Homo sapiens: one gene and its partners. The protein of the gene in region 3 interacts with the protein of the main gene of each other region in a pairwise test. Each region holds a gene or a part of one and is shown on either strand. Other genes may lie near its edges. The genes, in order: KCTD9, MIPOL1, FAM124B and USP54.

Region 1 (7,814 bases), on a different chromosome or scaffold from region 3:
TTGTCGCCCAGGCTGGAGTGTGGTGGTGTGATCTCAGCTAACTGCAACCTCTGCCTCCCGGGTTGAAGCAATTCTCCTGCCTCAGCCTCCCAAGTAGCTGGGACTACAGGCACACGCCACCACGCCCGGCTAATTTTTTGTATTTTAGTAGAGATGGGGTTTCACTGTGTTGCCCAAGCTGGTCTCGAACTCCTGAGCTTAAGCAATCCATCCGCCTCAGCCTCCCATAGTGCAGATTTTACAGGCGTGAGCCACCGCGCCCAGCCCTACTCAGGCTTTAATTATTTATGGCAAGCCTGCTGTGTGTAGGACACTGTGCCAAGTGCTTTGCAGTATTTTTTTTATTGTGATAAAAGATGGAACAAAATTTATTATTTTAACCATTTTTTAAATGTGTAATTCATTGACATTGTTTACATTCACAATGTGTGTAACCATCACCACGGTTTATTTCCAGTACTTGGTCATCATCCCAAACAGAAATTGTAACCATTAAGAAATAAGTCTCCATTCCCATCTATGCCTTGGTAACCTTTATTCTGCTTTCTTTCTCTATGAATTTGCCTGTGTTGGGTACTTTCATGTGAGTGGTATCATAGAATATTTATCCTTTTGTGACTGGCTTATTTCATTTAGCATACTGTCAAAAAGGTTCATCCATGTTGCAGCATGTGTCAGAATTCATGTCTCTTCTCTTCTCGCTTTGCTTTCCTTTCCTTTTTCTTTATTCTTTCCTTTCCTTTCCTTTTCTCTTTTCTTTTTCCTTTCCTTTTTTCTTTTCCGTCCCATCATGTCCAGGCTGGAGTGCAGTGGCGTGATCTTGGCTCACTGCAGCCTTGAATTGGCAGGCTCAAGTGATCCTCCCATCTCGGCCTCCCAAGCAGCTAAGACTACAGGCATGTGCCTCCATGCTTGGCTACTTTTTGTATTTTTTTGTAGAGACCATGTTTCACCATGTTGGCCAGGCAGGTCTCGAACTCCTGGGCTCAAGCGATCCACCTGCCACAGCCTCTCAAAGTGCTGGGATTACAGGCATGAGCCATTGTACCTGGCCTCATTGTTTCTTATTGCTGAATAATATTCCATTGTATATATATACCATATTTTATTTATGCAATTACCTGCTTATGGACACTTGGGTTGTACATTATTTTTTATAATGCACTTGGTTCCGCTTAAATTTTTCTTGCCTTCAACACTTTCCAAAATGCCCCAGCACTCTTCTGGCTTTCATCCTTCTGATCCAAGAGAAAAAAGTTAGAATCTGAGTACTCTGCTTTTGAAAAACTGCACACTCGTATGTTATCGAGCAGCTTTTTCCATGTCCTCCATTTACTGTATTTATTTAACTAGAAACTGTCCACTCTATTCCAGTCACTGGTGGACAGAGGACCAGCCTTAGTGCTCACTTCATATGGCATCTTGACATAATAAATCTTGGGACGTCCATGAGCTAGCTGACTGTGCTTCGTGTTTAGCTCTTCACCTACTTATTTTTCTTTTTTTAGCGGGGAGACAGAGCCTTGCTTGGTCATAAAGGCTGGAGTGCAGTGGTGCAACCTTGGCTCACTGCAACCTCTGCCTCCTGGGTTCAAGCAATTCTCATGCTTCAGCCTCTGGAGTAGCTACAGGCATACACCACCACACCTGGCTGATTTTTGTATTTTAGTAGGGATGGGGTTTCTCCATGTTGGTCTGGCTGGTCTCAAACTCCAGGCCTTAAGTGCTCTGCCCGTCTCAGCCTCACAAAGTGCTGGGATTACAGGCATGAACCACTGCGCCCGACCCTTACCTAGTTTTTATTCCTAACTTTCAGAGGTCATAACTGATAATGGTGCAACTGCACAACTCAGTCGCTGGGAACCCATAGTTACAGTTAGGACCAGGGCACAAAATTCACTTACATGTAGAAATTCTCAGCACCCTGCTTAGACAGTTGCATGTATCTTGCACATATATCAGACTGCTTGATTCACAGCAGGACACATCAATTCATTGTCACCCAGCTGTTTGCTCTGTTCTTAAATGTTAGATGCTAAAATCTGGCTTAGTTAGTGAAGAATTAAATAAATGAGGTGAGAAGTTATCTTTTCTGTGGTAGTTGATGTCGTTAATGATATAATAAACAGTACCAGCACACTCCTGTTCTAAGGATGAACCATTCAAATAAATAAATAATAAAAGGACAACATAATAGGGACTTACTAGGTCTCAGGCACTTTGCTAAGCTCTTATGCATGAACTCATTTCATAATACCTTCTGAAGTAGGTGCTACTATTTTCTTCATTTCTAGTTAAAGCAACAGAAGCATCAGTAGGTTGACTCAAGTTGACAGCTAGAAAATGTCAGACTCTAGATCGAAGTGTAGGTCTATCTTACTTCACAACTGGAGCGCTATTTAACACACCTTAGGATTGTAGATTGTTTTGGTCAGAGATGATTTCTTATGTTCTAGTTGAGGAGTCGGCAATATTAGGCACCAAGTGAATAAATGAGTCATGGAAGAAAAGGGGGCACTGTTAAGAACCTTTTGAAGTCTCCTTTTATATGATAATCTTTTTAGCACTGTTCTAGTGTGGTAGTTTATAACTTATGGGGGATAACATGTATTAAAGAAATTGTTCATATTATTCTGGTGTGTTTACAGGTGGTTGCTGTATATGGAACTTTATCTGATTTGCTTTCTGTGGCCAGCAGTAAACTCGGCATAAAAGCCACCAGTGTGTATAATGGGAAAGGTGGACTGATTGATGATATTGCTTTGATCAGGTAACCTTCACCTTTTTATAAGCTGTCAACAGTGTGCCTCAACTTCTTGGTGCTATGCTGTTTCCCTTAAGCAGTAATTTAATCACTGTTAAGAGTACAGGATTTTGGCAAGTGTTTACCTAGAATTTGCTCTTTGGAATTTAAATCATTTGGGCTTAAGGTGAATTGATCAGCTAGAAAACCCTTAGTACATTTCAGTATACTGATAGTCTTTCTGCATAGTTCATATATAGCTATGAGGAATTTCTTCTTTGTGGTACTAGAGAAGGATCTAGTAAGACGTGCAGTTTTTAACATTAAAAATCTAATTCATCTCTTCACTTTTATATGCGCCTGCTTGTTAATCATTTCCTAAGAATGCTTTGCATTTTATAATCATTACAAAGGCCAGATTTTGTAAAAACTTTATAAATATGATAGAATTCTAAGTAGTGATATCACCAGTGATCCACCATAATTATAGGCTTATGTTTGTACCTTAAATATCTCAGGCAGATTTATCTCTTTAAAACAAGTGTGTAGTTCACCTTACTTCATCTTCATGAGGTCAGAGAATTTTGGAGCAGGAAGATGCTTAACAAAGAAGATGGTAAAGGGAACACAAATTAAGTATTGACTATGCCACTTATGTTATCATTGCTTTGCCTGAGTTATACCATTTAATTGGCAAAACATGAGTTTTTTTTATCAGTGATGTGAAGATAATGATGCTTTAACCTATAATGATATACAAAGTCTCTGTATAAATCTAGATCAAAATGACCTTTCAGTATAATATACTGCTTTGCAGTTAATCAGTTCTAGACCCTTCATTTTACAGATGAGGAAACGAATTACCTGTGAAGCTGAGGACTCACTCAGGTCATACAGCTAGTTGGGTTTTGTTAATGAAAACAGATTTTTATACTAATCTGAAAAAGTAAACTGGCATGGTGAACAAGTAGGAAATACTATACACTACATTTTAAATCCAAATAAATTAGGATAACTTCTTAGTTTTTCAATATGTATCTCCCAGCTTCTTTCAGTTTCTAAGGAAAACTGAGTCACATTGTTGGATGATGATCCTCATCAACCTAACTTTCTTCTTAACAAACACGAACTCTGCTTCTTAGAAAAATTTAACGTGTCCTGTGATGTCCTATAGGAAATAAAAACGTCTACAATGGAAGGTTATAATTGAAGCCTTCTGAGCTATAAGATATCTGTTTATTCATTTTTGGTTCACAATACAGTATCTGGGGTAATGGGTTGAGGAAGAGGATGTGCACTGATTGTCCAGAACTCTGGGTTATGTGCAGCCATTTACATTTGGGTGTATGGTGGATGTGTAGTGGGTAAACACTGACAGTAGAGTTACTTCCAGCTATATTTTTCCTAGATTTAATATGACAGTTTATTTCATCTCCAAAGCACACAACAGCTGATGATTTAGGGGTAAAAAATGTAAAGAAAAAAAGAATAGTTGGCTGTGACTTTAATCTATCCTTTCAGCATAATTATTCATTCTCAATTGATAAGAAAGCTGAACTCAACATCGTTTGTGTAAGGAGATTTTTTTCCCCACATTTCAAAAGTACTTTCATGTGCAAGATCTTATTTTTGAATTTAAATTCAAAGACAGTTAAGTTCAAGGGGTTAAACAAAGCATTGGAAACTTAGCTTCTTTGCAGTCTAGATTGATAGCAAAACCTATTGTCTATATAATTGTAAGGAATAGTTCCTATAAGCAACAGATAATTAATGTGATTTTTAGATTTTGATGGTAGCTTTTTAAATTTTGATTTCCCCAGGGATGATGATGTTTTGTTTGTTTGTGAAGGAGAGCCATTTATTGGTAAGTGACTTTAAAAGCCAATTTTATCTGCCAAAAAAAAAAAAAAAAGATGGAATGACAATTATTTTAAATGGGGCTATTAAGCTTAAACATTAAAAATGATCTTATGGCTGTATTCAAATCTTCACACTTTTTGATTCTGCATTGGGTATGTTAAAGTAAATTTTTTACTATATGATCGTAGTTTATTATAGATGCATGTTTTACATGCCGTTAAAATGCTCTGGAGGTATACATATTCATTAACTGTAACATAGTAAGGTAGTTTTGATCTTAGAAACAATTGTTTTGTTTGAAAATTTTTTCTTTGATGGTGAATGTCAAAATTTTTCTACGTGTTGTATTACATATTTGTGAGTAAATATTGCTTGCGTAAGTAGTGTTTGACAGTATTTCACAGTGATCAGATCAGCCAAAAAATGACTTGGTATCAACCACACACACAGGTGTGCACACACACTACCCTTTGATTTGGAAGAAAGCTTATAGTTGTATATCTCAAAAGAAAAGGCCGAAAGGAAGATAAAGTATTTGATTTATTTAGATCCATACAGTCCACACTCTGAATATTTAAGTATTTTTTAAAGCATCATACTAATTGCATTTGGTGAGTGGAAGTAGTTCTCACGATTGTTGCACAGGCAATTGTCAACTTAGAAGTAAGTGCATACTCTTGTCTGTCTGTCTCTACCTTAAAACTGTAAGCAAGAACTTCTCATCTTCTTTTATCCATTGGCCTAACAGTGACTGGCAGGCAATGGTCACTTAATTGGTCCACTGCATACAAACACAATAAAAAATGATCAATTAAGGTTTTTTTATTGTTATTAACTCATGGATTTAAAAATATTTGGTATATTTTCATCCTCTGCATTTATTGATGTTCAGATGGTCTTAATTTTTTGCCACTGGAAATCTCTTCGGGTCTTTTTAACAAACCTTGTTGGATTTTATGGCTTTCTTATTATCTGGAATAACTGGTGTTCATCTTAAAACCTTTTCCTGTCTCAGACCTGGATCAACATTTTTCCAACAAGCCTTGATTTTTTTAGTGGGAAGTGTCATTCCAAGACAAATCTGGGTGCTAGGGAGGCTCTTCGCTATTGGGTTCATTATTGTTGCTATGCCTTTTGGTGGACAGAATTGAAAATATATAGGTAGAGATAAAATTTGTATATAATGTATGTTATAGGATATAAAGTTTATATGTCATATATAACAAAATATGGATAGATGAAATAACTCATGGCTTCATAGTAGTACTTAAAGTTTATATTAAGGATTATAAGGTTTTTACTTATCCTCTTCTGTCTTACATCTGTGTCTCCTTTTTCTATATCAATAGTCCTGACTTTCAGGGACATGGAGACTAATAGAATTATAATGTCACATAATTACTCATTTACTTTACCCCATACAGAACACATCTAAAAATGTCAGAGTAACAAACTCAATACTTTCAGTACCAATATAATTACTAAAAACAGTTAAATGTTTTTCATATGCTAAATCCCTTCTCCCCTTACTTAAAAATAATTGTATTGTTTCTGAATTGTCGGAACATATAGCCATTGTATATTATAGTGTCTCCCTTTATACACTCATTTAGTTTTACTTCTTCAAGCGTACACTTACCTCCAGTCCTTTTGTTATGTTTCCAGTGTTTATCTGAAACTTGTTCTCTAGTAGATTTCTCTCCAAGATACTATGAGAACAATATTCGGTGACATCTTCCAATGGCAAGATGCCATTGCCATCCACCATCTTTATATAATTTTGGTATAAAATTATATGTCAAAGCTTATTAAATTATAAACTTTAGTATGTGTAACTTGTTCTGTGTTAATTATACCTCAGTGAAGCTATTGAAAAATCCTTGGTTCACATTATTTTTCTTTGAATATCTTAAATATGTTACTGCATTTTATTCTGGCCTGAGGTGTTGGTCTCAAAAAATCTGATCTTTCTTATGTGATTATTTTTCATAGATCACCCAAAGGATATTTCTCTTTCTTTAAAGTACAGTAATTTTAGTAGAATATTTATTGGTGTTCTGAGTTGTTCTGGATTGGTTTTCTCAGTATGTGATGGATCCTTTCAATATATAGTTTCAAGTGTATGTATTTTAAAATTTCAGTACAGTTCTCTTGAAGTTGACATTTTTATTTTGTTCACTTTGATTTGATTTCCTTCTTTCAGGACTCTATTGTATGTAGGGTGGATCTTTTACACTTGTCTTTTATGTTTGAAACTTTCTTTTCCTTTCTTTTTATTTTATTTATTTTTTTGAGACAGGGCCTCACTTCATCACTCAGGCTGTAGTGCAGTGGTATGATCTTGGCTCACTACAGCTTCAACCTCCTGGGTTCAAGTGATCCTCCTGCCTCAGCCCCCAACCAGGAGCTGGGACTGCAGATGTGTGCTACCATGCCCGGATAATTTTTTTGTATTTTTTGTAGAGATGGGGTTTTGGGGTTTTGCCCTGTTGCCCAGGCTGGTCTCGAACTCCTGAGCTCAAGCAATCCACCCGCCTCGGCCTCCCAGAGGATTATAGGCATGAGCCACCACGTCTGACCATTTCTTTTTAATTTTTCAAGCTATTCTCTTTTTTACCTTTTCTTTCCCTTAAGTCATTGTCTATTGTGTTTAATCACTCTTGTATTTCTTTTGCTTTAGTCTTTAAAAATCATTTTTCTTTTATTTCTAATTCTCTTGGGAGTTCTTGCTACTCATTTCTGAATTTTTAAATCCTGGTTTATATTGTTGTTTTATACCTTGTATAAACTTCTTTTAGCATGTTTTGGAATATTAGATTATAATTTTGATCTATTTTGTGGGTATTTCTGGCATGTTTTCATTATCTATAAGGACAATTATTATTTTAACACTTTTGTATTAACATTTGATCAGTCTTTTTGTATTGCTCATTTTTATATGAAATTAGTTTTTCTTAACTTGAAAAGAGGGCTGACAGGACAGTTTTTCCAATTTCATGGCTCTAGAGTTCCCTTTTCTGTTGTTTTTGTGAAGTGTTTAAAATACACAGAACTCATTTTCTGATATATTCTGGTCTATTAAACCTCTTAACTTTCATCTGCAGTCCTTTTTTTTTTTTGTCTCTGTTGTCTTTGTTGCATTCAACTTGGATTATTTTCCCAGCATCTTATCAGTATGGGGCTTTGTCCATGGAAGGGAGTTTTGGCCATT
Region 2 (7,814 bases), on a different chromosome or scaffold from region 3:
GGCTATGTGGTCTTCTGACCTACAGGTCAACCTGCCTTCATCCCATCTCTGCATTCTTGGCAATATGAACTTTCTAAAATGCAAATGATGTTACTAGATGAGTTAAAACCCTTTCATTGTGTTCCCCTGTCTACATCAGTTGTTTCATCACAAAGTTTTCACAGGTTCAAATTGAAGTAAATAAAAAAATACAATATACCAAGTTTTTCTTAAATATTTTAGCTGAAAGGTTGAGTGAGTGAATGGATGGCAACATTAATCAAGATAAGAAATACTGAAACATGCATAAGAAGTAAAATAGTTTTGTTTTAAATATACTGAGTATCATAGGCCAATTGTATAAGCAAGAGGAGATTTCTTGAAGGCAGTTGGATAAGTGAGTCTAAAACTCAGAAGAGAATTTTGAGAAAGGGGTCTAGATTTGGAAGTCATGAGCGTTTAAGTGTCATCAAGGGAGCAAAATGAAAAGAAAAGATGATAAAATACATCAACATTAAAAATACCAACAAAACAACAACCATAGTGATAAAAGAAACAAAAATCATATTTAAAGTCTTCTCATCCTTCTGACTGAGAGAGGGCAAGATCTTTAATACTAATGGCAAACCCTAGGTGCAGCATTTTTAGTGACTTTGTCTCCTCCTCCTCACAACCTTGTATAAGGGTTTACTTGTCTGTTCTTCAGTTTCTTCATATTTAAAATGGAGAAATCCTAATCCTAGCTCTAGCCCTTTTCCTGTTTCATGAAGCTGTTGAGAAGATATCACTGAGTAATATTTAAAGCAGCTGGAGCCTATTTTAGTGAGCTACATAATTTTTTAAGGACATTATTGATTTGGACAGTAAGAATAGCCTGCAGGCAAATCCTGCAAGGTGCTTCAACAGACACACACGTCTACCTTCCTGTTGGCACAGCCCATGTTTGGCAGGTGTATTCCATTCCTTACAGGAAGGAATAGGTGCTTCATTGTGTTACAGAAGTCAGTAAGCTTTCACAAAACTAAGTAATTGACATCTTTCTCATTTCTGAGATCAGGTTTTCATAAATCATTCGACCTGGATAAATTGAGATTGTAGTTGATGTGGTAATTGTTGAAATACAATGAGGACATTGCAAAACATGATATTTAACTATTTCCTCCTAATCTCTTACCTTAACAACATATAAGAGTTCTAAATGGAAAGATGTCCTAATGTAGAAAAAGGAAACAAAAGTAAGATGAGCCTGTCTGTAAAGGAGAAGCCAGAAGAAGCACAACACAGATTCATCTCAGTAATTTGGGATTCCACTGATTCTGAATTTGTAGTAACAATAATAATAACTAGACAACATAGAGCTGACTTTTATATTGTGAAAAAGGTTTTATCACTAGTTAGTAGTATAAATTATATTATGGAGAAGGGATACATTTAGCCAGTTTGCAAGTAATATTTTCTGGCTTTTAACAATATATGCAAAGCAATGCTACTAATATCTTATAATGATTTCTGCTGGGAGCTATTTAATGGTTATTTCAAGTTACTATCAGATTTTAACAATAAACTTAAAATTTCATAGTGTAGTTCTATAATTCATACTCACATTTTTCTTTCCCCTCATTGCACAACTCAAGTTAATTAAACATTGCCTTAAAGGATTCATGTAGTGCTATGAGTCATAATATTCAGAGTGTGTAAGTTAGCACTAGTTTTTAACCACTAGGGAAGGTTCAAGTATTGCAGACTAATCTGAGAATACAGTGAATTTTCTAATGACTCTTCTAGTTCAGGTATTTGTACCACTAGACTGTTTTAGTGGATATACAACATTTATGTATAGTTTGCATTTTAGAAAAGTTTGTAGTAATAAACTTAGACAAGATTTGCCTTTTTACTCTAAGATCATTACTGTGTTCTTAAAGCAAAGTTTTTTGATGCACTGAATAATTTTGTTTTATTTTCCTGTTTTTTGTTAACAGAATTCTTGATAGATACAAAATCATCCAATAAACTTCAGCTAGTTTTCAGCATTATATGCAGTTGATTTGTCCATTCCTCAGTGGAACTTCCAAATCATCTAAACCAGCTTTGTATGACACTAAGAATACCCTCATTCCTTCAGTGTCTAGCTCTGTGCTGTGTTTATTTGCAGAGGACCCTCATGCATGGATCCATATAAATGAGGCAAACTGTGAAGCAGACTAGACTGTGCCGCTTACCGTAAAGTCTTTGAGAGAGGAAGATTGTGTATATGAAAACTGCTAGGCATGATATTTACTTATAAGGAAGATTTCTATGTGTATAACATCAAGCAAGATTTTTGGTTGAGGTTTTATGCTTTCAGTAAAGAAAATAAAAGAAGAAAACCAATTAATGGTCTGATTCTATCATCTTTTGTCAAGCATCTCTTACTGATCTACATGAATGTGACCTCCCGCTCATAGAGTAGTCTAAGAACACTGCAGAATGGACTTGTGAACTTTCGACTCTCTTTTCAATTTAATTGACTAGTTTTTAGTCAACTAAAAAAATCATTTTCTTTGACTAAAATGTCTATGTAGGTAATTTCTAGTGCATCTATGCTACTCAGAAATAGAAACGTGTTTTTTTAATTAGAACAAAAAGTCTGGTTTTATTAGTATCAAATCATTGTGTATTTTTAAATTATTTCCATGCTACTGTAACTTGAAATGTTTCCCACCTAACCACTATTTCTGGCTTTATGTTTATCAGCTGATTCTATGAAAAGATGGGAATTTAGTACATAGAAGTTACACAGTATACCAACCAATGAATCACTTATCTAAGTAACAGGTGAAACATTGCTGATATTTGTGTTTTGAAATATGTGCTTTTCTTAGGTAAAATCAGTTTATTCTACATTTAATATGTGATCCTGTCATTGCATAGTAAATGATTCATTCACAACCTTAATGCAAGTAGCTAAATGTATTGAAATAAGTGTCCTATAAATTTTGTGTGGCATCTAATGCTGACATAATTCAAGGATCTGGGTTAAAGTTTGTGTCGTTGCTGGGTTTTTTAACCTCAAATACTTGGCACTCTGTAGCAGTGTCTCTCACAGTAATGCTTTGTTTCTTAACATGACCGTGAGGACTGCTTGGTCACAGGCAAATACTGTCCTTTATCAGCCAGGACATTCTTAACAATAATTGCCCTTTTTTTCCCCTTCTCACCCCCATCCCAACCCCAACTTAGGTTGGAAAGGCTGGTGGATGTACTGAGGAAGAAGGTTGGAACCGGGACCATGAGGACAGTGATCTGATTGAAAAAAAACGACAGTCTGGGGAAGCGATCACATCTGGTGACCAGGCTGCTTCATTCAACACTGTGTAAACACCAAAGCCTTAACTTAGCAAACAGTTGTTAGAAGTGGGACACTCCAACCACATTCCAAGCTGAGATAAAATCAAATCACAAATGTTTAACCACTTTGCTGCTGACTTGAGTTATTTATCCAAATATATTAACTATAGACTTTTACCAATGGGTAGCTATAAGGTTACAGCTTATTTTGTAACTATTTTATATCTCAATATCTTTAATATAAATCTTTTTACTGAGAGATCATTATAGAAACATGTTAAAGTTGGTTAGGATCATATCTTCACATATGGCCCTTTCTGAATCAAAGTGCGGCAAAGTAAATATTGTCTAAGCTTTAATCCACTGTGTTAGGTCAAAACTTCAAATACATGCATTTTTCAATATAGGGTATATTTCTTAACTGATGAGAGAGGCTTAGACATGAGTGTGTAGTCTTCCTTCAATGCGTGTATGTAATCTTTGTTAGTATAAAAGATATTAAATATAGGTGCCAAGAATTAAATGTATAATTTGTTTAATAAGAGATGGATATATTAAAATTACATTCATCAAGGCATGATTTTTGTTTCACTACAAATAATGCAAACTGTTTTCAATAAAAAGAGGAGACTGTTAATGTGTACTTATAAATTCACATTGTCAGTATTTTTTAATATTGGGTCTGAATAATTATCTGAATTCTACTTAAGCTATAAGTCTCTGTCATTTTTGCTTGAAAATTAGCATGCCTCTGTCTTAAAAGAGACCATCAAACCTATTAAGTATTCTTATTGTTTATCTTTTTTTAATTGCCATTTGATTTTTATTGTGGAGGAGGAGGATCTAATATATAATATTCAATACAATTGTAATGTAGAAATATAAGAATTTAGAAAAAAGTAAACTTGCCATTTGGTTAAGGTTACCTGCTTTTTATTTTATTCCAGAAATAAGATAGTTACAGCATAGCAGTCATATGAAGTTATGAATAGAACTGAGATTTTTATGTAATTAGTTATAGGCAAAATACTTTCATATTTTTAGATTAGACAGACGAAAGACCAAGAGGAAATGACTGTGCCTGGAACAGGATGAAATAGACAAGTAGAGATTTAATTAGCAAAAATTTTGTAGGGAAGTAAAATTTTTTCTAAGTCTATACGTTTTTAATTCATCTTTAAGATTGAGCTAAATTATCTACCATTGCCTATTTACAGGATAAGTACATTCAGGACAATTTATTGTACCATTCTTTCATATACCATAGCAGATTATCCATTTCAATTTTTTTTTACTCCACAGGAAAATGTAAGCTACTTTGTCATAGATCACAAAAGAATCATAATGCTAACAAACTCTATTTCTTCCTTATTAAATCTGTATCCATTAAAGTAACTTTTTTAACTATGAGAATTAGAAAATAAGGGACAACAGGGGTTAAAAATAAACTGATTTAATTTGCTCTATAGTCCTAAAGAGAATTATATCCTCTCATAGACCAATGACTCTATAATAGAGAAATATGTAATGATTTGGTCATGCATGGAGTCTTGTCTCTGGGCTCTATTTGAAACGTGTAACAGCTCCCTATGTGAAGAAACATTATCTTTAAAGTCATCTGGGAGGTGCAGGTAAGTAAAGAGAAACAATTTTTGTCACAAAGTAGTCCATTCCTGATCTCACTTAAAATAAATCACAAGTAAATTTGAATTTTCGGTTTAATGTTGAAAGCAGATGAACTTTTCTTGAGTTATTTTGTCTTTTAGAATACACAAAATATAGTATAAAGACATTTCACAATTTCCAAACAAATCTTTCTACGCTTAAATGATCAAATTAGAAAAACCAATTCCTATAATTAATATGCAGAACTTTTATAGAATATGATATTATAAAGTTAAATTTGCAAAATAATTCTAACATCCACTATTGTTCAGTATAGGTAATCTCCCAAAAATATCACATCCTCTTGAAAATGAATTGTCTACAAAATTTCAAATGCAAAGTATTACAGCCAAATATTATCTTAATTAATTTCTTACACTTAAAAGTGTCCATCAACAGTGTGTCAGATGGTCTTTATATATTTTTTCTGTATGAAGGAATAGCCTTGCCTACTGAAGATAGGTTCTCTATGTATTCAACAATAATGCAACTTTAGAAGTATTCCACACTGCTGAGAAATGTTGCTTTGAGTTTGCTTTACACATCATCAACTCTAAATCCTATAGTAACATGAGAATTCACTTCTTCTTGTAAAAATAAGTAATTTACAGGAAAGGCAAAATGCTAATACTAACATTTGTAGCACTTGATGATTTACAAAGTCCTTTTACATCTGTTTTTTCATTTGATCCTATCGACAATCATAATAATAATAAATTATATATATAACCCATATAATAACGATGGTGATGATAATTTTAGTATTACTGTCATTATAATTATTATTATATTCATTCTACAGATGAGGAAACAGACTCAGTAAGCCTTGGAATTTGCCAAGGACTGGCTAGGACCTAGAACTAAGATCTTATAACCACACTCCATGCAACTATGAGTCTCTAAATCTCTCTGTAAGAAAAAAATTTCAAAGTAAAGATTTTACTCTTGCAATTTCTGTTGTGATAGTACCATCTCTTTCACATACTACATACAAATTCCCTAATAATCAAAAGATTGTACACATTTTTTTCAATGAAGTACAATAATGTGAACTGCATGTGTAAACAGCATCACATTATTACCACCTCTCTATGGTATTATAGTGGCAGTATGCTTTGCCTCAGCCTTCACTAATTAGGAATATTGTGACAATTCATTGCTAATAAAACATAACATGAGTCTCTTTGTACTGTTTTTAATTTGGCCTGATGCTAAAACCTATCAGCTTAGTTTTTTAACATGGTAGTCTAAACTTCAAGGCTTGCTCTATCTCCTAGAGCAATTTAGAGCTAAAACCAGTAATAAGCAAAGTTATTGGTTATAAGCAAGGTATAAGCAGTTAAAGCAAAGTTATTAATTATTAATATATGAGAATTTAAAATTTTATAAATAAGTTAGAAATTATTAATGTATTTTAAATATGGAGTAAAATATTTTGCTAATTTTTTTCAATGATAAAGTTGATCCTTTGTATATTTCCTTATTCAAATAAATTCAGTCATCTTCTTATCAGGTTGCTTATTTATATAATTTGTTTATTTTATTAAAAATCTAGAATATTAAAGATTTATACTTTTAATATTGAATATAGTTTCGTAGAAAAACATTTTATATGTACTATTCTTAAAGATCACAATTATTTTTAAACTTTCTATTTTCAAATACTTGTGATTAATAAGGCATTCTATGATGAAATAGCCATGGCTTATATATTTTTGTCTTTTCACATATGATGTGTTTGGAACCCAAATTTTTTACTGATTTTATTGTGTTGTTGGTAACTAGTATTTACAGCTAACCTATCTATTCATATTTTACATATATATATATATATATACATGCACACACACCGATACATTTACCTTTTAAAAAAATGATTTATAAGTGAACTGTTAGGCTCCAGTGATTTCAGTGTTTTGTTCATGTTTTATTGGAAATGCACGTGGTTTCTTAGGCTTTTAAACAAATACATGGAATGGTTGAAAGATTTATTTTGCTCGTGCTTAGCTAAATATGTCATCTCTAGAAAAGATGTGGTTTGTTTTGGCACTGTTTTAAAAACTCAAATATTTTAAACATTTGTTAAGTTGGAGCTTGCACATTTAAACCAGCAGCATACGTTCCAGAAGAGCATCTCAAGTTACCAAATTTTTTGTAATCCTTTTACTAGAAAAATCTTTTTTGAAGAGTTTTTCTTGTGCTTGCTTCGGCAGCATATATACTGAAATTAGAAAAAGAAAACTTTTCTTTTTTATTATATATTTTAGTGTAAGTTAAGTTAAACTTCTAAAAGTTGAATTATTTAATGTAGGACTTCATAAATAGTATTTGACAATGATAAATGTGTATTTTTGAGAATCATTAAAATGTATACAATGATATTCCTTTGCAGAAGTCTTAATATGCATAATTTTTAATCTAATTGTCTTCTAAATATAGTTTTGGTGTATGCTGGTATTTTAGAAGCCACCAATTTCTGGACTATCTGATTATTAACAAAGATGTATTTTAATGCACAAACTCAAATGTTTAAAATATATATTTACTTTGTACTCAAATAAAATCCCCTATTGCAAATCCTATACATATTTCAATGCAATTCTTATACATCGATCTTAATCAAATTTATAAATGTACAATCCTGAAGACAGTGTACTAGATATGCACTATAAAATATATTGCAGTAAGGAAACAGATTAAGTTCACTGTCAAACTGTCTGACTTCCTTAACAAATTTAATAAAGATAAATGTCAATATGAACAAATTTGTTAGGTACCTTAGGAATCTTTCAAAACTATTTAGATATAAAATAAAATTATAGTAATAAAATATTGAAGAGAAA
Region 3 (7,724 bases):
TGTAGTTACACTTTTGGGAGCCTTCATCATTTAGACGCTAACTGAAGGCCTAGATGCCCCTGAGATTGCCCTGGGGCAGGTAGAGTGAGAAGAAAAGAGGACCCAGGCCAGCTCTGAAGAATGACAACATTAAATAAACCAACAAGGGAAGAGGCTCCCTCAATGGAAACGGAGAAGGGGTGGAGGGAAAGGTAGGAGAAAATCCAGTGGAATTTATTGGCCAAGAAGCTGAAGAAAAAGACTTCAGGATAAAGAGTACAGACTTCAAGGTCAAATTCTACCAAGAGCTCAAGAAATAATGAATGACAGGAGGGCTGATTGTAGATGACCTTGGCAAGAGCAATTTCATTGGAGTGGTAGGAGGGAATTACCAGCGTGGTGTAAGAAGAGGCAGACAGTAAAGGGTGAGGCAGGCCACATCCAAGGACTTAGATTTTATCTTGTCAGTGGCATGGGTAGAGAAAATAAGGGGAGGTTTGTAGAAAAACATAACTACACAAATTTTATATACAGGTTTGACAGTGAAGGGGAGGACAGAGAAACCTGGAGGGAAAGAGAGGGTGGAAAGAATGTGTTTTTCAAGACACGAGACTTGAACAAGTTTAATTGCTGTTGGAAAGGAATAGGCAGAGAGAGAGAAAGAGAAGGAGAGGGAGAGAGATTAAACATCCAAGATAAGAAAGTGGGAAAAATGAATAATTGATAGGTCAGGGTCACCAAGAAGGCGGGAGGTGATGGGAGTCTTGGCCCAGGGACCGGTCACTTTCACCTAGAGAGAATGGTGAAGCTGCAGGTAAGTTTCGCGGTAGCAGTGAGAGTGTTGCTAACTGGTGACAGCATCTGCTTCCTTGATAATCTGGATGGTGAGACCACCTGATGAGAGAGAGTGGGGGCGATGGTGCTGCTGAAGATTTCAGGACAGTTTTGAAGGTTTGAACAGCTGCTGGGTGAATGGAGAGAGGTGACTAAGGAAGCAGGCAGACTGGCGGGTAGCCTGGGAGAGGCCGGAAACCACGCCATCATGGGGCACCCATTTCACAGACCGATGTGTTTCTGTGGCATCCTGAACACATGTTCAGAAAATGTGGGCAGGTAGATGGATGAAAGGTGGGGAGATTTTGTGGGAGTCTGTGACAGAATGGGAATAGTGAGGGGAGTTGGAGGTATTGGTGAAGAAATGGTTGAAGTGATAGTCTTTGGACTCAAATTGACTCTGAAAGGCAGTGTGGATGGGAGGGGCTGACAGGGAGAAGCTGGGGATTGGGAGTGTTGATGTTGAAGAGCAGATGTGATGGGGAATTGAGTGCCGGAGCCCATGGCCTCAGAATGCCTGGCTTAAATAGAATCTTTCAAAGATGGGACATTTGCAGGTGGAGAAGGCCCAGTGGAGGGGCTGTGGGACTGGGTGACAGAGGGGAGTGGAGGGGTGAGCTGGGCTGGCCCAGGAGGGCGCTTCCTGGCTGCCCTGAGATGTCTCGGCACTGGTTGGGGCTTCAGGACCAATTTCATTATGATCTGACATTGATTTAGATGGCAAGGGGCGATTACTCAGGCTTCTCTCTGTGTTCACAGTTGCTAGAGAATGAAATACAAGCCCCAGAGTCAAAGTTATTGATTTCTTTCTCCAGATTGGATAATCTAATATCAACCCTGAACCATTTCTCAGTATGGAAATATCCATGCCAGTTTCCATTTCTAGAAGAAAAAGATGTCATTGGGTCAATTAAAAAGGTACATTATGATACAAGGGTACAGTGTCAAATGATTCTCCAAGAGGCAATGATGGCAGTTGGCCCTTTGAAGGACTAAGGGAGTTTGTTCTCCAGGGGAAGGGAAACCCCAGCTGACATTTCGGAGATAGTATTTTTTCCTCCTGATTTTGAAAGGATAAGCAAATAGTCTTCATTGGAAAGTGAGAATTTGGGGGTGATTTGAGGTTGGGATAGGGAGAAGGCTTTACTTTTTATTTTATACATTTGTACAATGAAATTATTTTTATGGTGATAAATTACTACTTTTATAGTAAGACTTTTTTAAAAAAACAAACAGATGAAAAGGAAAGAAAGGAAAGGAAGGGCAGGAGGAAGGAAGGAGAGAAGGAAGAAAGGAGGGGAGGGAGGGCGGAGCTGTGGAATTAGAGCAAAGGGAAATGTAGAGAGAGATAGCAAAATGAAATTAGGCAAAGAATTTTTCAGAAATATGGAGGAGGAGGTCGGGTGTATGTGATAAGAAACAGACTCACAACGACCGCAAGTTAACTGACTACTCGAAGCCTAGCTTTTCTGGGTCCATGGCAGTAGTTCCGAAACTTCGCTGCACATTAGAATTACTGGGGGAGATTTATCAGCTCTGACAGCCAGGTGTACTCTGACCTGATGAAATCAGGAGGTCATGGGCTGGGAGCAGGCATCATTGTTTTTTAATGATCCCAGGATGTTCCCTTGTGCAGCAAAGTTTGGGAACAGAAATTTCTCCTATGGGTTTGCATAAGGACAGGTCCTTCGGTGCAGTGGGCATCCCTTCAACAGTGTCGCCCCTAGAGAGAGTATCTGATGCTGGTGGAAGCTCTCTTCAACACACTCTGGGGCACTGCACTCAGCTGTGGTTCAGTGCAAGCACATCTGCGATAGGGGTTTCAGGTGTGTGTGGCTCTAATGAACTGGCTTGGCTCAGGGGTAGAATTTAGATATTCTAGAATAGTGGTTTTCAAGCTGGTTCTGTGAAGCCCTGGGGAACTAGAGAGGGGGTCCCGTAGGCAGAGGCTACCCTCTGTACGTCAACCAGGGCTGCGCTAATTAGATTGCTTCATATTTTGGGCTTCCAGGTAAGAAATTGTTTGGAAAAAAACTTCTTAAGATAGAGAGATGGCTCACTCCTGTCATCCAGCATTTTGGGAGGCCAAGGTGGATGGATCACCTTAGGTTGGGAGTTTGAGACCAGCCTGACCAATATGGAGAAACCTCATCTCTACTAAAAATACAAAATTAGCTGGGCGTGGTGGTGCATGCCTGTAACCCTAGCTACTAGGGAGGCTGAGGCAGGAGAATCACTTGAACCTGGCAGGTGGAGGTTGCAGTGAGCTGAGATTGCGCCATTGCACTCCAGATTGGGCAACAAGAGCAAAACTCCATCTCAAAAAAAAAAAAAAAAAAAAAGACAGGGAATCATTGATCTAGAATAGGGCTTGGTCAACTGTGGCCTGAGAACTAAAAATAGTTTTCTATTTTTATATGGTTGGAAAAAAATTCATGACACATAAAAAATATGAGATTCAAATTTCAGTGTTCATACATAGAGTTTTACTGAACACAGCCATTCATTTATATATTGTCTATGGCTGCTCTGCAGCAGAGTTGGATAGTTGGGATAAAGACCATATGGCCGGCAAACCCTCAGATATTTACTGTCTGGCTCCTTGCCGAAAATATTTGCCAACTTCTATTCTAAAAGAATCAGTGGAAGTCCTTGTTTTTTTGTGTGTTTGTTTTTGCAGCTTGGTAATATGCACCTCACCATTTCTATCAGAAAATTGAGATGTACTCTGCGTCATCTATACAAACAAATATGCTCTGTGTGAGTGTGTGTGTGTGTGTATGAGAGAGAGAATTTACTGATTTCTAGACCTGTTTTCTCACTGTCCTCATTTCTGCCTTCTTGCCTTGTAAGATAAATATGTATCATTATTTTTTCTCCCTTGAAATAGACCTTATTTTTTACAGCAGTGGTAGGTTCACAGCAGAATTAAGCAGAAAGAACAGAGAGTTCCCATATACAACCTTCCCCCCGAAAAGAGCCTCCTTTCCTGTCAACATCCTTTATCAGAGTGGTACATGTGTTACAACTGATCAACCTACAACGACACATCACCATCACCCAAAGCCCATAGGGTACATTAGGGTTCATTCTTGGTGTCGTACATTCTGTGGGTTTGGACAAATGTATAAGGATGTGCATCCACCATTACAGTATCATGCAGAGTAGTTTTCACTGCCCTAAAGTCCTCCTGCTCCACTTAGTCATCCCTCCCTCCCCCCAACCCCTGGCAACCACTGATTTTTTTACTGTCTTCATAGTTTTGGTTTTTCCAAAGTGTCATATAGTTGGCATCATATAGTCTCTCTCTGTCACCCAGGCTGGAGTGCAGTGGTGCAGTCATAACTCAATTTAACCTCGAACTCCTGGGCTCGAGGGATCCTCCCTCTTCTGCCTTCTGAATAGCTGGGACTATATGTATGGACCACACGTCTGGCTGATGTTTTTATTTTTTGTAAAGATGGGGTCTTGCTAGTTGCCCAAGCTGGTCTTGAACTCCTGGCCTCAAGTAGTCCTCCCACCTCAGCTTCCCAAAGGGCTAGGATTACAGGCATGAGCCCAGATAGGCTTCTTTCAGTTAGTAGTATTTATTGCAAGTTCTTCCGTATCATTCTTCTTGATATTTGATTAAGGGCTGGGCCAGGTAGGGATGGATCCTGGATACAAATTTCCAAGGGCTGTTATCAAAATGGAAAAAATTGCCTTTTTCCAGAAATCTTCTTGGGAAGAGTGTTGTGCATGGAATAGGATGCAAGGCTCCCAAGGGTGGAAGTCTTAAAGGGGGGTCAGTGAACTCCATCCTGTGGAGGGAGAGTGCAGTCAACTGCAGGGTGAGGGTTTTGCTGAGTGGTGTCTGTAAGTTTGTAACCAGAGTGGAATTGCTAAGGATGAAAACACCTAAACTTCCATATAAGCCATGCCCCCTTTTTGTTTTCTCATGCAATACCAGGCCTCTAATCTAAATAAATGGTGCCCCAAGAATTTAAAGAATATTGCTGCCAAATTATTAGCCGTCTGGAGTGGTCACATGTCTTAGAATGGCCCAAGATATGTATTTTTATTAGCATGATCTAAAAGAAGGATCACCAGCTTTGGAAGATTGAATTCTTACTTCAATCCTTATCTTAACTTTAACCACATGGTTTGGTGGCTTTCTAAATTTCTTTTTTTACATGGTTGCTAATAAATATATCATTTACAACATCCAGTGAGGTCACTGAATGACATCTGTGAATGTCTGCATTGTTTGAACAACTTGCTCTACCAGAAGTGTGGTGTTGTCAATTGGCCATTTGATTCCCAAAGTCTTACCCTTGTCAAAAACTTAATTTAGGGAGTCCCAAAGAGAGGTATTTGGGGCTGGGTCTGATTAGATATCTCATAATTATATTGTACTTATCACTTCTATTCAATTCAACCAAATTTACTGAAAGTCTGCTATGGGCATGGCATGGCAGAGGGTGAATAAGGCATAGTCAGCTCTTGGCACTTAGTTAATGGAAATTATGTTTCATATGTTCCTCCTTTCCTTTCCTGTAGGTTCAGCTGAATCCAGAACTTGGTGTTAAGAATGGCATCTTGGGAGCTGGCATGCTTCCCCTGGGCTCCAGGCTGACTTCTGTCTCTGCAAAGAGGACCTCAGAACCCAGGAGCCAGAGGAACCAGGGCAAGAGGTCCCAGGGGCATTCTCTGGAGCTTCCTGAGCCCAGTGGGAGCCCCACATCAGACAGGTGTGCTGGCACTTCGTGGAAAAGCCCTGGCCGGTCATTCCAGGTCAGCAGCCCAGCTATGGGTGCCCACCTGCACCTGTCTTCTCATCACCTTGAATCCGGGGCCAGAATGAAGGTCCTCAACCGGGAAAACAGCTTTCAGAAGCTTGAGGCCGAGACGAATGTTGACACCGGCTTGACCATCATAAATTCTGAACCCAGGCAGACTTATTTTGGCGGATTTCCAAGGGATTTACAGACCAGCCAGCCACCATTCTGCTTGCCAGCCTCTTCCTTGGGGGTGGCTACCTCCAAAAACAACAGTGTCCTTAAGGAAAGAGTCTCTCCTTTGCCACTTGCTGGCCAAAGGGACCTTGGTACCAGGAAGACAATTTCAGAATGTCTCCTTCATCTGCAAGTTCAGGGTGAAGAAAAAGAAGAAGATGAAGAAGAATTCTTTATATAGCATAAAATAAATGTGGTTTTCTAAAACACAAGATCAGATAAAATGTTCTAGAAATGGAGTACTGACCCAGAATCAGCCTGTTAGTTGTTCATCTGAGGGGGGCTGAATGCTCCCCATGCACAATCTGTATTGATTTTATTTCAAATGTTCAAAGTCTAAAGGTGCTGGGAATGATTGTTTATTTGCCGTCACAGTCATAAGAGAACACAGCCAACACACAGGGAAAAAAACCGAATGCTTTTGTTCCGTGGAGATGCACTAACCCAGCTGGATGTGTTGAATCCAGCACCTATCAGGATAATTGCATTGTATGCAAATGAATCGGTATGTTATACAACACTAATTAGTGTCTGTAATTTGGTTTTAATTTTTACTTAGGTTGCATAGCTCATCCCCCTGGACAATATGGACTGCTATTTACTCTTGAATGCTTTTTAATTTTCATGTGACCTCTTTTGGTAACTAGGCCTTGTTCACATACCCTCCTTGTGATTTTGTCTTTAAAGTTGTTTGTATCTGGAATGAGTGAAAATGCAAAGTGTTTTGAAAATTATAAACAGTTAATTTTGTTTTCCTGTTTAATGAGCCAAAATACTGGAAGCCAGAAAATCAGGTTGAACATGAATGCTAGGCTCTAGGGCTTTCCTGCTCATCTGCTTCTCATTTGTTTCTGCACTATGTCAAAGAGGACAGTGGTTCTTGTTACAAACCAAAGAGGAACATTGAGCACAGTGGGAAAATTGGACTGGTTGATCTGGTCACTGGAGCAGGACTTGGGTTCTTCTGGCCAGATTTTGACTCCCAGATTCCTTTACAAAACGCACTCATTCATTCATTTATATATGTTCATTCAATAAACATTTTTTGAATACCTACATTTGAATAAGACATTGTGTATATGGTACATATACATTCTGGGGCCATGAAACCCAAAAAGTGTTTATGGTTTCACCACTCTGATAAATTCATTCTACCAACTTTTAAAAAGATACTGAATTCCAAATATATTCCTCCAAAAACTTTTTCCACAGTTGAGGCCCACACTGGCCACATAATGGTGTAATAAGCATTTGCAACCTGCAGATGGAGACTGGGCATATTATGAATTGCAATTATAATTGCAATGGACAAATTCTCGTTGCCCATATGCTGAATTTTTTGGATATGTCTGTACACACATGTTTAAAAATCCCGAGGCCTGTGTTTCAGTTCATTTATAAGGTTATTCAATTCCACGAACTTCACTCTCAGAACAGATGTTACATAAGAGTGTAAATGTTGATTTAGCTGGATCTTTTGGAGACTTGGAGACTTACTACACCTAACTGGAGACAGAGATGAGTTCAGTCCTAAAGTCAAATCTTGCAAAAGTGAGTCTAGGCTGATTTTGGGTGCTCTTCTCCGCAAAAGGGATAGAAACGGAGGAGAGTTGTAAATGGACAAAGACAAGACTCCTCAATTGATATTTTTTGTCCTTAAAACATCAACATATTCTCATTCCCATTTTGTCTCTCTCTCCCCTAGACTACAATTTGATTTTAGAAAACGGGATGAAGAGCTTAACTTTGGTATAGCTTTCTATAATAAGAGTTAAAACAAAAAAGGAAGTTGAACTACTGAACTTTGAATAAGCACAGCAGGAAGAAGTTTTGAAATTTCCTTCCCACTTTTTTTTTGATGTTATCTAAATTTTCTTAATATAATACATGGGTAAGAATAAAAGTACCTGAAAATTA
Region 4 (7,814 bases), on a different chromosome or scaffold from region 3:
GGGGAAGGGAAAGGGAGAGGCCCCCACGGAAGGAGAGGAAGGAAGGGACAGGAGGCACGTCACAAACTTATAAGATAGAGGGAAGGCACCTGGAGTACATTGATCAGGAGTGAGTCTGTAAGAAGAGCTTGAATCCCCAGAAAATCTTCCTAAGGAGGGGAGGAAGGAAGTGTATAATGTACTGAGTACTGAATGCTCTGTCAGGAAAGGGATGGGAAACATCCTAGCAGCAATACTAGAAAGGAAAGGCACCCTATTTTAGGACCCATTGATTCCCACCTTGATTGTATATCCTTCAACTCGTCTCTGGCTCCTCACTTCCACTCAGTCAAAAGCCACTTCATATATTTATCCAGACTTCCAGCCCCAATACAAAGAAAGCAAGAGCATACAAAGGGAAGAATGACAAGGAATTAAATAGAACTGTCTTATAGATTTATTAATGAAAAATACTTTACAAAAACAGTATGTTTGGCCTAAAATAGTTCAGCTGACTCTGAGGGTTTACATTGACGACTGAGCAAGTGGCAATAATGGCTGTGTTATTGAGGACAGAAGGCTGTGTTAGTGTGCCTGACTCCATCTGTTCAAAAGGGTGAATGTTATGTTGGCAGCTCCGCATTCTAGGCCTAAGGTTTGGAGGGCACAGGGAATGCTGACAGGCCATAATACCTGGGCAGGGGGGCTGCCCTGATGATGTCATCAGAACCATGACCACAGGGCTACATGTCCCCCCAAGGATGGGAGACAGGGAAGACAAAGGGTCAGGTAATAGGGATAGGTGGATAAAACAAAGAGTAGAAGTTGGGAGTATAGTAGGGAACAGAGGATGAGGGCTCAGGTGGAGGTGGGGACATAAAGCATCCAGGAATAAAATGTGACCTTAAAATCCTAAGGAATGGCTAGTATCCAGAGTAATACCATGGATTCATCTTTAAAGTGGCTCAGATAAAACCCTTAAACAGCAGCTGCTTCCTTTTGCTAGGGGGAATGGAAGTTGGAATTTCAAATATCCCCTCCCAAAGAATCACATCTTTTTAGAGGTTCCTGACACCCTTAGGAGAACCCACCAATTCTATGTTGAGATGAGAATAGCACAACCATGGCAGTGATGCAGGGTACCAACGCTGCCACAGTAGTTTATTTTGTTGTTGTTTTGTTTTGTTTTTTGAGATGGAGTCTCACTCTATTGCCAAGCTGGAGTGCAGTGGTGCGATCTCGGCTCACTGCAACCTCTGCCTCCCGGGTTCAAGCAATTCTCCTGCCTCAGCCTTCCGAGTAGTTGGGACTACAGGCACGCACCGTCACGCCTGGCTAATTTTTTGTATTTTGGTAGAGACGGGGTTTCACCATGTTGGCCAGGATGGTCTCAATCTCCTGACCTCGTGATCCACCCGCCTCAGCCTCCCAAAGTGCTGGGATTACAGGTGTGAGCCACCGCGCCCGGCCCACAGTACAGTTTTACAAAGAAAGGTGTAGCTCCAGGAAAGGAAAGGAATAACCTTTACCATTGACTGTGCTGCAGGACTCTAGCCCTGATCTGCTCTCTTCTGGGAGCATCTGATAGAACAAACAGAAACCCCTCTCCCACTGTTCTCCTGTGTCCAGAGTGGGAGGCATAACTGCTTTGCCTCCAGTCATCATCTGGGGGCATATCTACTCTTCGAGGACCAGGGGTTCGGGACCCTGGAACAGGATCTGAATTCCAAGCTGACCTCAGGGGTACATGAAGACTGCTAGATGGTGGGTACACAGGATGAACAATGGGAGGGTGGGAGGGTGAATGGAAAAGATCACTCCAGGACTGAGTGTGAGGAACCTGAAGGCCCTTGCTTCTTTCTGGTAGTGTGGCAGTGTAGGTTAGTTGAGGATTGCACCCTGGAGTAGTCAGGAATCTGGTCCCAATATGCTGGTTGGTCTCTGACCAGGGTGCCCAGGAGTTGTCTGTTCTGGAGCGATGGGGGAGGCTCTGGTAGTTCAAAGTCCTTCCTGTGTACTTGGCCCCTTGGGAAGTTTCACCCCTGTCACACATAGCCAGAAACTGCTGGACACTCCTTGAAGTTCCTGGGGAAAGAAAAGAAACCCAAAGACTGAGCATCTTCAGAAAACCATTCTCCTTCCCAGAGAGCCATGCCTAGCTGTGTAGCCCAATTCCCTACTCCTCCAAGAGCATACATACAAGGGAAAGAATGAATCAAGCTGTGCTTTTGATTCCATTTCTTAAAATTCTTAATATACATCAAAATCAAATCTCATACCTCCAACCTGGGCAAATGAAACAGTCTCATGGATGTTGCCATACCTCTACCTCCCTCCACTATAATCTCTCATCCACTATACACACACCTACAAAAGAAGGGCTCCCTAATATATAGCAATATATGGCAAACGTATACTCCCTTTGTGATGACTATACTCCTAGAGCCACCATACCAAAACCTCACGCAGCTTTTCTTTTTAAAAAAAATAGAGACGGGATCTCACTGTGTTGCCCAGGCTGGTCTCGAACTGCTGGACTCAAGTCATCCTCCCATCTTGGCCTCCCAAAGTGCTGGAATTACAGGTGTGAGACGCTGTGCCTTGCTTTTTTTTTGTTTCTCCAACTTTTCTTAAAATGTTACCTTCACTTCAGTTAAGCTGCCTTTGTTTGATCTCTGAGATCTAATGTGGAATGCCTTTTCTTATACATTTATTCAACTTTGGCACTCTTGGTATCTTGGGCTGATAATTCTTTGTTGGGGTTGGGGAGAGACTGCCCTGTGCATTGTGTGATTTATTAATGAAAAATACTTTGCAAAAACAGTATGTTTGGCCTAAAATAGTTCAGCTGACTCTGAGGGTTTACAACAACAACTGAGCAAGTGACAATAATGGCTGTGCTGTTGAGGACATCCCTGGCCTCTACCCACTAGATACCGGTGGTACATCCCCTTTATCCATTGAGAACCACTGCCTCAAGCTTGTACATCCAGTGCATGAGGGGAAAAAAGAGAACATCTCACTCGGAAGGTCAAAGAAAGCCAAAATGATATTGCCCACCTTCCCCACAATTGTCTGGGTCTGTACACATGGTGTGGGTACTCCATGTAAAGGGTCTTTCCAATTCTCCCACTCATTCCTTATCTTCCTAGACCATCCCTCAGCTGAGACTCAGAGGATAGAAGGGGAGAAAACTAGCTCAGAGGATAGAAGGAGAGATGACCATTTCTGTTCTGGGGATGTCCCAAAGACTGGGTATTAACTCCCCTTTGTCAGTTAAAAGCTTATTCTGTCATGACTGAAGCAGGTCATTTTCGTAAGTAGACAGACTCTAGGGGTGCTGGTCTAAACCCTTGGTCTAAGAATCATGGTGCCCAACAAATGATTTAATATTTATCTAGATAAATGCACGACTTTGAAGCAGTAATTCATATCTTCACACCACTCCACCTTGGGATACCCCCCTCCCCATAGGTATACTGATTTGACCCTTGGAGGCCCCTGAAAAGGTACCAAATTCTGGCATATAATATTAGATTTGGGGGAGTTACCTGGGAGTCTATTGGGCTCCCCTGCCATGGTGGGCATCAGGACATCTGGGGACAGGAACTGTGGTTGGGGAAGGTAGAGTTGGGGACCGAGGAGAAACACAGAAGGGTCATGGATGACAGGGAGGGAAGAGGAGCTGGAACAACGGTGCCCGGTTTCCAAAGGCTTCCTCACGTTTGATGAATCCTTATAATGAGACAAGACAAAAAAACATAGAGATGAGGATTAACACAAAGCAGGATGTAGTTGGGTAAACACAGTGAGGCAAGCAAAGGGAAATGGAGGGAACCAGAGCACAAACATGCCTACATGCCTTGTTCTGGAACAGGACCCAATTTACTCAGTTGCTCTCCCTGCTAGCCCTCTAAGAAACTGCAAACTTCAGATCCTTATCCCTTAACCAGTCTTCCTCATATCCCTCACCTTCCCAACCCTATCATTCAGGTCTTTAGCAAACTCCTTAATGCTAACAGTAGAATTAGAGAGATTGAGATAGAAATTTAAAAATAAAAACGAAATATGAGAAATTCAGAAAGCCTGAGAGAATGAGAAAAAAAAATCCTTCACTTATTCTAAGTACTGGGAATGAAACTATATATGTTTAAATGTAGAATCAAGAACTCTACCCCATCTTCTCTCCTGTCACTGCTACACATTCCACAGCTTCCTCTTTTGCCTGTCAAGTTTGTATTTACTGATGCTAATGTCCTGCTCTACTCCCTATTAGTTATCTACTTTTATGATAAATACCCAGAAATATTCCCCTTTAACATCTGAAACACTAACATATCCAAAATTGAACCAAAATCCTTCCAAACTCCTCCTCCTGGCACCTCATTTTCCTAAATCACCCATATTCAAACATTGGCAATGACCTTGATTTCCCACTTCCCATCCACAATTCCATTACTTGCCAAGGACTATCATTTCTACCTATGGGTTTTATATTTAAATTCACCTGGACTACTGCAACAGCCTTCAATCTGCTTTTCCTATCTCCCATCCACTCCTCCTTACTGTGGCCTACAAGGTCCTGTGTGATATGGCCCTGCTGCTCCTCACTTTATTTCCTATCATTCCTGGAGCTTTTACACTCTAACTTTAATATTCCTCAAACACACCAAGCTCATTGCTACCTCAGAGTCTTTATACTTCCTGTTTCTGTTACCAAGAATATTCTTCTGATGGCTCATACTTTCATATCACTGAGATCTCTAATCAAAAGTTACTTCCTTAGAGCTGATTTCCCTCACTACCCTACTATCAGGAATAGCCCTCAAAAAAACCACTATTACCTCTTTACTCTTTATTCTCTTGCCTTATTATTCTTTATCATACTTATCATTGTCTGGCATTATGTCATTTATTTGTTTATTGTCTTCTCCCCTATTTCTTTTTACTTCTGTATCCGCAGCACCTTGAACAGTGCCTAGAACAATGTGGGCACTTAGTAATAATACATTAAATAAAATAATCTATATGCCAGTATGTCTAATTTCCTTTACGAGACTGCAAGCTACTCAAGGGCAGAATTTGTGTTGTTTCATCAGTGTATGCTCACAGCACCTACTACAAAATGGCACAAAGTAAGCATTTATCATACTGCCTAAGGACCAGGTGCCAGTCCTCTCAGCATGTGACACAGCTAATTATTCCTTTCTTCTTTTTTTTTTTGAGACGGAGTCTCGCTCTGTCACCCAGGCTGGAGTGCAGTGGCGCAATCTCGGCTCACTCACTGCAAGCTCTGCCTCCTGGGTTCACACCATTCTCCTGCCTCAGCTTCCCAAGTAGCTGGGACTACAGGCACCCGCCACCGCGCCCAGCTAATTTTTTTGTATTTTTAGTAGAGACGGCATTTCACTGTGTTAGCCAGGATGGTCTCAATCTCCTGACCTTATGATCTGCCCGCCTCAGCCTCCCAAAGTGCTGGGATTACAGGCGTGAGCCACCGCGCCCGGCTATTCCTTTCTTCTTGAAACACTCTCCCCTTGGTGACTATGGTACCACACATCCTTGGTTTCCCTTCAGTCTCTCTAATCTTTTTTTCTCAGTCTCCTTTTAGGGTTCTTCAGAAGAACCACCTTAAATCTGATGCTCTTTAGGGATATGTCCTGGCTCCTCTTCTCTTTCTGCAAGTCTTTTCCTCTTTTTCAATGGCTATGATTCCCAGATTTCAATTTGCAGCTTATATATCTCATTCCAAAAGCCTGCCAGATACCTCCACTCAAGCTTAATATATGTAAAACTGAATGCATATCTTCCCTCAAATATATCATTATCTACCCATAAAACTTGAGTATCATCCTTTATCCCCACTCCCAACATCCAGGCAGGCACCAACTCCCACTGATGTTTACTTCCTAACTGGGTCTCAAATACATCGACTTATCTCTATCCTTCCAAACTACTTACTGTGACATACAGGGCTGTCTGTGGTCCATAATATTCTTTGTATCCTCTCTTGTCAACACTCTCCATCATCTCCCCTTGCCAGACTTTCTAATCCTGCCATACTAAATAAGCTTCTTTTAATTCAGTTAATATTTGCTCAGGTCCCTTTTACTTGCTATATTCTTTTTGCTTCCTCCAGGAAGCCTTCCATGATACCTCAAGCCTGATTTAAATATCCCTTCTATTATGTTCCCATAGGATCAAATCCTTAACACATTATAACTGTTTGTTTATTTATCCGTCCCTCACTGTAGACTGTAAGCTCCATAAAAGCAGGGACTATATCTAACTCACCATTGTAGCTCCAGCACCTAGCACAATACCTAGAACACACTCAATAAGCACTTATTTATTTGTTTATTTTTGTGCTAGGAATCTTGTACAGAATCAATAAGCATTTATTTAAAAGAATGAATCAATGAATGATACAGAAGTCAGAAGAAAGGAAGCCAACTCTCCTAGGAAAAGAACAATTTGCCATTAAATGAATTGAAAGTACATGAGAACAAATGCTAGGCAGGAGAGTCCACCTTTTCCAAAAAAGAATGGCAGCCTGATCAGAATTGCTTAGGAATTTATGAACGATAAATTGAATGAAACTTACTATAAATTCGGCTGGGTTTTTTTGTTTGTTTTGTTTTGTTTTTGAGACAGAGTCTTGCTCTGTTACCCAGGCTGGAGTGCAGTGGCTCAATCTCAGCTCACTGCAACCTCTGCCACCCGGATTCAAGCGATTCTCCTGCCTCAGCCTCCCGAGTAGCTAGGACTACAAGCACCCCCCACCATGCCTGGCTAATTTTTATATTTTTGCCATGTTGGCCAGGCTGGTCTCGAACTCCTGACCTCAGGTGATCCACCATCCTTGGCCTCCCAAAGTGCTGGGATTACAGGCATGAGCCACCACGCCTGGCCTCGGCTGATTTTTAAAAATTGGAAAAATGAGTACCTCTTAGGAGGGAAACTGAATCTGAAGGGCTGGTAGAAGACAGACTTGGTTTTCACCATATATGCTTTTATACCTTTTTATTTTTGTACCATGTATTTAAAATCTGTTTTTACATTTTTCCTGAACTGACCTAGTGGACAACCTTCAATGCACTGGTACTTTGTACCCTGACCTCTACTGTGATGAACACTCAACTTGGGCAAGGAAGTGAAATTCTCCAAAGGTATGATTACCTACAAACCTAGCCACTGATATTATTTAAGTTTGTTGATCTCTAATGGCTTGGGCTTTCCTGCCTCTTCTACTTACACATTACTGCACTAGTACCATATGAAAATTCTCAAGAAGGCTTTTTTCCTCTTCTTGCTGATACACATGCATCACTTTAGATTGAAAACACACTGAATTCTATTCAATCACATACTGGGGGTGAGAGGAAAAAGCAAACCAATACTCCATCCCATTTCTTTCCTTCTTTCTTTGATTAGTGCAGTGGGTTCTGACCCAATCAGCAGCCTTTGCTTCTCAGATTCCTCTCAAGGCTTTATGACTCTTCTCACCCCAGGAAACCCTACAACACGCACGGCCTTTCAGAACTGCTACATGGAATGGACATTCCTCTGGGCTCCAGCTGAATGTTTGTAAATAAAATAATGACTGCGTGTCCTTATTTTTGCTGAGTACACAGGGCCTTTCCTCACATTACAACCTTCACTTTCTCCCTGCTTCTTCACCTGCACTGTATTTTTGCTTAGCAAGGAGGAGGGTGCTCTGAATAGATGGACCCTGATTCTACTTACAAAACTGTGGGAAGAAACCGGAGCTTCCTCCCTCTCTGAGACAACGGTGCCACTGAGACTGCGTGAGATGCGACGTAAATTCTCTGCAC

What was found.
Region 1: the proteins of FAM124B (region 3) and KCTD9 interact in binary tests that used the Homo sapiens proteins (3 or more experiments, as listed by UniProt).
Region 2: the proteins of FAM124B (region 3) and MIPOL1 interact in binary tests that used the Homo sapiens proteins (3 or more experiments, as listed by UniProt).
Region 4: the proteins of FAM124B (region 3) and USP54 interact in binary tests that used the Homo sapiens proteins (3 or more experiments, as listed by UniProt).

The regions. Positions count from the first base shown.
Region 1 is NC_000008.11:25,441,085-25,448,898, reverse strand, and holds part of KCTD9 (BTB/POZ domain-containing protein KCTD9), read left to right. Parts: intron 1-2,648; coding exon 2,649-2,770; intron 2,771-4,563; coding exon 4,564-4,607; intron 4,608-7,814. UniProt on the Homo sapiens protein: Substrate-specific adapter of a BCR (BTB-CUL3-RBX1) E3 ubiquitin-protein ligase complex, which mediates the ubiquitination of target proteins, leading to their degradation by the proteasome.
Region 2 is NC_000014.9:37,543,707-37,551,520, forward strand, and holds the end of MIPOL1 (mirror-image polydactyly gene 1 protein), read left to right. Parts: intron 1-3,198; coding exon 3,199-3,265; 3' UTR 3,266-7,553; downstream 7,554-7,814.
Region 3 is NC_000002.12:224,377,837-224,385,560, reverse strand, and holds the end of FAM124B (protein FAM124B), read left to right. Parts: intron 1-5,352; coding exon 5,353-5,988; 3' UTR 5,989-6,863; downstream 6,864-7,724.
Region 4 is NC_000010.11:73,497,125-73,504,938, forward strand, and holds the end of USP54 (ubiquitin carboxyl-terminal hydrolase 54), read right to left. Parts: coding exon 7,726-7,814; exon of another isoform or gene 7,681-7,725; intron 7,149-7,680; exon of another isoform or gene 7,060-7,148; intron 3,715-7,059; coding exon 3,531-3,714; intron 2,564-3,530; exon of another isoform or gene 2,471-2,563; intron 2,065-2,470; coding exon 1,505-2,064; 3' UTR 414-1,504; downstream 1-413.